Linked DNA regions of Homo sapiens: region 1 is linked to region 2. The links come from fine-mapping of genetic effects on gene expression. A gene starts in region 2. The other region holds a variant in brackets. All regions are shown on one strand. Distances are from middle to middle. Region 1 overlaps PTPN5 (protein tyrosine phosphatase non-receptor type 5). Region 2 holds the start of IGSF22 (immunoglobulin superfamily member 22).

The links.
Region 1: its variant is fine-mapped to the expression of IGSF22 in left ventricle (GTEx, PIP above 0.99).

Annotation. Positions count from the first base shown.
Region 1 is chr11:18,779,135-18,782,038 of GRCh38, reverse strand. The region is part of intron 1 of PTPN5 (protein tyrosine phosphatase non-receptor type 5); the gene reads left to right. Among named protein-coding and RNA genes, the nearest start is that of PTPN5, 11 kb to the left of the region's middle. The variant T/C (reference allele first, on the strand shown) is at 1,460.
Region 2 is chr11:18,724,921-18,727,824 of GRCh38, reverse strand. IGSF22 (immunoglobulin superfamily member 22) reads left to right here and starts at 1,637. Exons shown (of 23, transcript NM_173588.4): 1 at 1,637-1,751. The region is part of intron 2 of IGSF22-AS1 (IGSF22 antisense RNA 1); the gene reads right to left.

The DNA.
Region 1 (2,904 bases), 54 kb before region 2:
TACGTCTACTCTGTGGCTACACTGAGCTGCCTCGTCTGCCTGGCATACCTTGTGCTTTCACCTCTCCGGGCCTTTGCCCTGCAGTGTTCCCTGCCTGGAATGTCCTCCCTGTATCTGGTGAACTCCTGCTTGTCCTTCGGGTCTCTTCTGTGCAGCTTCCCAGACTCTGTTTTTGTGCCCTCCTGAGTGCTCCCATAAGACAGCCTCAGTGGGCCTTTAATGCATTTCTCACTCAACTCACTAGGCCGAATGCTGGGTGGAGGGCAGGGACTGGCTCTTAGTTATCTGTGTGTCCCCCAAGGCTCAGTACAGAGCCTGATATTAAAGAAATTGATATAAGATTATAGTAAGATTATCTTAGAGACAAACTGGGTTTAAAATACAAAATATATTCTGAACCACCCCCTGGAGCTAATAAAGTTGGAGCTGGGCATGGTGGCTCATGGCTGTAATCCCAGCACCAGGCCGAGGCGGGTGGATCACTTGAGGTCAGGAGTTTGACACCACCCTAGCCAATATGGTGAAACCCCATCTCTACTAAAAATACAGAAACTAGCCAGGTGTGGTGGCAGGCTCCTGTAGTCCCAGCTACTTGGGAGGCTGAGGCAGGAGAATTGATTAAACCCGGGAGGCGGAGGCTGCAGTGAGCCTAGATCGCGCCGCTGCGCTCCAGCCTGGGTGACAGAGGAAGACTCCATCTCAAAAAAAAAAAAAAGTGGTCAAAAAAAGACAGTCTGATCTCTGGCTACAGATGATAAATGTAAACTGACTTCCTGCCAGTGAGGCAGAGACCTCCATCCCTTCCCCAGAGGACCTAGCATCATGGGAAGTGGCATGGATGAGTGCAAAGTAGCGCAGCTCAGGGAGTCAAGGGGGCCGGGGCGGGGCCGGGGGGGTGCGGCAAAGATCAGAGTCAATCTCAGAAGGCTGCCTGGAGGAGGTGAGTTCCAAAGGTTTTCAAAGAGGTCTCTGTGTCAAGCCTAGGAGTTGCATAATCAGAGTGTGAGAGCCCTAAAGCATGATTCAAGGCCACCTGGATCGTGGGCCTGATCTGTCCTCTCATGACCCTGGTACTGAGTGTCATGCAGCAGCCCTTCCCTCTTCCTTCACTCCTTTCCACTCATGTCTTTCTTCTTTTTCTCCCACTTGGTCTTTCCTTCCCATCTTCCTTCCAAATCTGAGTGTAAAGGAAAGAGCTGGACCTGCCTTCCATGTTTTTTTCTCCTCTGCACTGGGCTTTCTGTCGTGGGGGATAAAGAGGGGGTTTTATCCCTTGCCCCTTGTCAGCCTGGGAAGTTTACAGAAGCCAAAGTTATGGACAAGAGAGCCAGGGAGCAGCCCGGGACAGGGTGTGGCTCATTACCAGTTTCCAAGTCACAAAAAGTGCTGGGGGAAGGATTGAGCCAGAGGAGAGGTCAACACACCCTAGACTCACTAGGGAGGTTTCCTGGAGGAGACC[T/C]GGGCTGAGGTGGGCCTTGGAAGGGCTGGAAACCACAGCACAAAGAGGAGGAGCAGGAAGGCCTTTCCTGGCCAGGCCTGAGTGCAGAAGGGTTAAATTAGGCGGGGGGCAGGGGCCCTGATGAGAAGCTGGAGCCCACAGCAGGGTGTGGCAGGAGCTAGGGGCCGCTCTAGGAGCTGAGAGACTAAGGCAGAAAAGCAGGAGGGAGCATGGCTGGGGCAGGCGGATGTCATGGCAGAGGAGGATTTGGGAAATCCTGTGAAGTGGAGTTTCCAGTTCTTTTACCCGCCCTTTCCTAGGGCTCTGGGTCTGACTTGGGGACCTGGAAACAGCCTGGAGCTCTCCAGAGGGCAGAGGAGGTTCTGCTGGGAAGACCCCTCTCATCCTCCAGCTGCTGTCACCTGCATTGTTCTCATTAGCTCCAGGAACACCTGACAGAGCCTGAGGAAATAGGAAGCAGACCTTTGTAGCTGATGGCACTGCCTGGTACAAAGAGCAGGAGTGTCTCCTGTGTGAGGTTGACTTGGAGGGAGACAGGAAGTGAAGCTTCGAGCCAGGTCAGCAGGAATATGGAGAAGGAGGCCTGCCCAGGACTGCCAAGCTCTCCCTATGTACAGCCCTCGCTTCCCAGGCTTCATCACAACCCTGCAGCTCTCATCGGTGCCATGTTAAGTGGGAGGAAATTGAGACTCAGAGAGGTTAGGACACCGACCCAAGGCCCCTTGTGGAGAAAGTGGCAGAGCACAGCATGTTAGCCAGGTCTCTCTGCCTCTGAATTCATCCTTTTCCCGGAGGACCAGGGTTGCCTTACAATATGTGATCTCAGAATGGTCAGTCTGTCGTGCTTTGAGGAATTCAGCCCGTGACTGAGGACCTCTGTTGACAGCCTGCCCTGGGCCCAGGTTTCCAGCTGTCCACTGGCACAGGGAAAGGAGAGAATCAGCCATCCTTGGCCCAGGACCAGGGAGACCACGTACCTGCTCTCATGTCAGTCCCTAACCTCTCTTAAGTGCCTATAGCTCCTGCAGAGTGAGATAATGATGTTTTCATGGGGTTGTCTCAAAGAGCTAATGAAATAAGGTACTGAGAAGCATGTGGCATATGGTAGGTCTGCAGCTGCTATTTATTAAATTTGAATTCAAGAGGTCAGGCTCCTTTCAACCTTGACTCTTGGTCCCACCTGGGATTTTTTCCTAGTTTACACTCTATTTTTTTTTTTTTCCTTGCAAAAGAGCCTCAAATCCAGCTAATGTTTCCAAACCCAGCCTCGCTGTGTCTTCCCCTCCAGGCCCTGCTTCTGACTCAGTTAGACTCTTCCACCAAACCTGAAGATGCCAAGATCTTCCCAGGTTGCCATGACGTGAGCCAGGCCTGAGCACAGAAGGGTTAAATCAGGCTGAGGGTAGGGGCCCTGATGAGAAGCTGGAGCTCACAGCAGGGTGTGG
Region 2 (2,904 bases):
TGCTCACTGGAGCCCCTTGTGGAGACTGGGAGTATGGAGCGAGTCCAAATTTGTAAAGCCAAACTGGGAACATTCTGCAGGATTCTCACACAGCCTCAGCCCTGGCCCTGACACATGCTCTGGGCCATGGGGAGCCTCAAGGACAGGTGTGGAAGGCTTCCAGGGAAGGCACAGTGGCTGGCAGGTCACCATTTCCAACAGATGTGCCAGAGAAGCCAAGGCTAGGGTAAGGAGACATTCAGGTCACACCCAGGCCCCTCCCTGTTGGCCAAACTCTTATCCCATGTTAGCTCCACAGATCCCAACAGCAGCTGCAGCCCAGTAATTTCCCTTGTAAGGCCTGGGCTCAGAGTAGCTCCTCCCAAGGGGCCCAGGGAATCTGCATGTGGGCTGAGATCCTGAGCCATCCTGGACACTCCTGCTCTATTCTTGTCCCCTGCCCCCCTGGGATGGAGCAAAAGTAGCCATGATGCCACTGCTGGCAGGTGGGGGTCACCCCAGGGCAGAAGGAGGGGTCCAGGGCAAGGGTGCTGACCAACAAGTCCTTACAAGGTGCCAGAACCTTGGGTGGGATCCAGGGTCCAGGCATGCGGGGTGTGCTACAGATGATGAGAAAACAACAGGGTGGGCTGGACACGGTGGCTCACGCCTGTAATCCCAGCACATTGGGAGGCCGAGGGGTGGCAGATCATGAGGTCAGGAGTTCGAGACCAGCCTGACCAACATGGTGAAACCCCATCTCTACTAAAAATACAAAAATTAGCCGGGCGTAGCGGTGCACGCCTGTAATCCCAGATACTCAGGAGGCTGAGGCAGGAGAATCGCTTGAACCTGGGAGGCAGAGGTTGCAGTGAGCCAAGATCGTGCCACTGCATCCAGTCTGGGTGACAGAGACTCCATCTCAAAAAAAAGAAAAGAAAAGAAAACAACAGGTGGCTGAAGCAGCCCAGATGGAAGTCCTTGAGAAGAGGTGGCCATACTCTCCAGTCACCCTCAAGCAGAGACCTCCCCACAACCCCCGGAGGATGGGCCCTCCTACTCTTCTACCCAGATTAGGGAGATTGGGCTGTTGAAGTGGGAAGAGGAAGGAGACCTAACATTTCCCTGTTCTTCCCCAGGGTGGCCTTGTAAAGATACTCAGGCTGTGTATGAACCACACATAGGAGTGCAACATGAATGGGAACCCCTGGATTTGTGTAGCAACGCAGCAGATCCCAGAGGCCCTCCCCAGTTCACCGTGTCCCAGTCCCTGGAAAATACAGACCTGTTGCTTTGCTCCCTGAGCCCTGCTGGACTATGCATGCACCTGTACCTGAGTGTGTGCCTGTGCACACACACTACCCTGAGCCCCTCAGCTCAGAGAGGTCCTACCCAGCAGCAGTGAGAGCCAAAACCTGTACCACAAGGGAACAAAAAAAGTACCCCTGGACTGCCACCCTCAGCCTCCTTCCCGCCTGGCCTTCAGTGTTTCCCCCAGCCTGGATCCAGCTTTGCTTCCCGCCTCCCTTCTCCACCGCCCTCCCCCTCCCCCCACAACCAAGCAGTGTGCCATCTAGCTGAGACAGCTGCAGAGCCTGACTAAGGAATCGCCCCCAGGGGGCCAGACATTTAAGGAACAGATGACACTGGTAGCCTCACTGTTGGGGCAAAGGAAGAAGGAGACGGGCCACCCTACAGTCCAGGCACTAGCTGAGCCTCCAAAGCCGTGGACACAGCATTCGAGTGTTGGGAGGGACTGGTCAGTGCTGAAGGTAAGGCTCCCCTCCTCCCTCAGGAAGGGGACAAAGCTGACCACCTTCTGAGCCCAGAGGGGACTATAGGGTAGAGGGCAGGAATAGGAACAGGGGAGTAGTCTCAGAACCCAAAGGTAGAAGCAGCCCAGGCAGAGATATATTAGGGGGTGGAGAGAGGGAATAGAGTTTAACCCCTAACTACCTGGGTTAAAGAAGGCTTTGGAGCCCTCTGGGACGCCACTGGACTGGAGTCAAAAGCTAGGAGTCTAGTCTGAGTGACCTTGGACAGGTCATTTCTTTCAGACATCAGTTTCCTCATATACGAAATAGGACTTTAAAAACTGCAATGCTGGGCCAGGCGCGGTGGCTCACGCCTGTAATCCTAGCACTTTGGGAGGCTGAGGTGGGCGGATCACGAGGTCAGGTATTCGAGACTAGCCTGGCCAACATAGTGAAACGCCATCTGTACTAAAAATACAAAAAATTAGCCGGGTGTGATGGCGGGTGCCTGTAGTCCCAGCTACTCGGGAGCCTGAGGCAGGAGAATTGCTTGAACCTGGGAGGCAGAGGTTGTCGTGGGCCAAGATCGTGCCACTGCACTCCAGCCTGGGCAACAGAGCAAGACTCTGTCTCAAAAAAACAAAAACAAAAAAACTGCAATGCTGGCCACATGCAGTGGCTCACACCTATAATCCCAGCACTTTGGGAGGCCAAGGCAGGCGGATCAATCGAGGCTAGGAGTTTGAGACCAGCCTGGCCAACAAGATGAAACCCTGTCTCTACTGAAAACACAAAAATTAGCTGGGCATGGTGGCACGTGCCTGTAAACCCAGCTGCTGGGGAGGCTGAGGCAGGAGAATGGCTTGAATTCGAGAGGAGGAGGTTGCAATGAGCCGAGATCACCCAAAAAAAACCGCAATGCTGGTTAAATAAAACATTGAGAAAACATGGTGCTCTGAACAGGAATGAGGAAACGCTATCATCTGGTATGGAAAAAATCTCCAAGACACATTAAATGAAAAAAGAAAGGGTCAGAATAGTGTGTATAATGGGCTACCTTATGTGCTTTTTTAATTAAAAAAAAAAAAGGAAGATGATAAGAACACATGAGTTTTCCTATTTGCATGATGGAGGTCTAGAAGGAGCCTAGAGACTGGCTACCTGTTGCAAT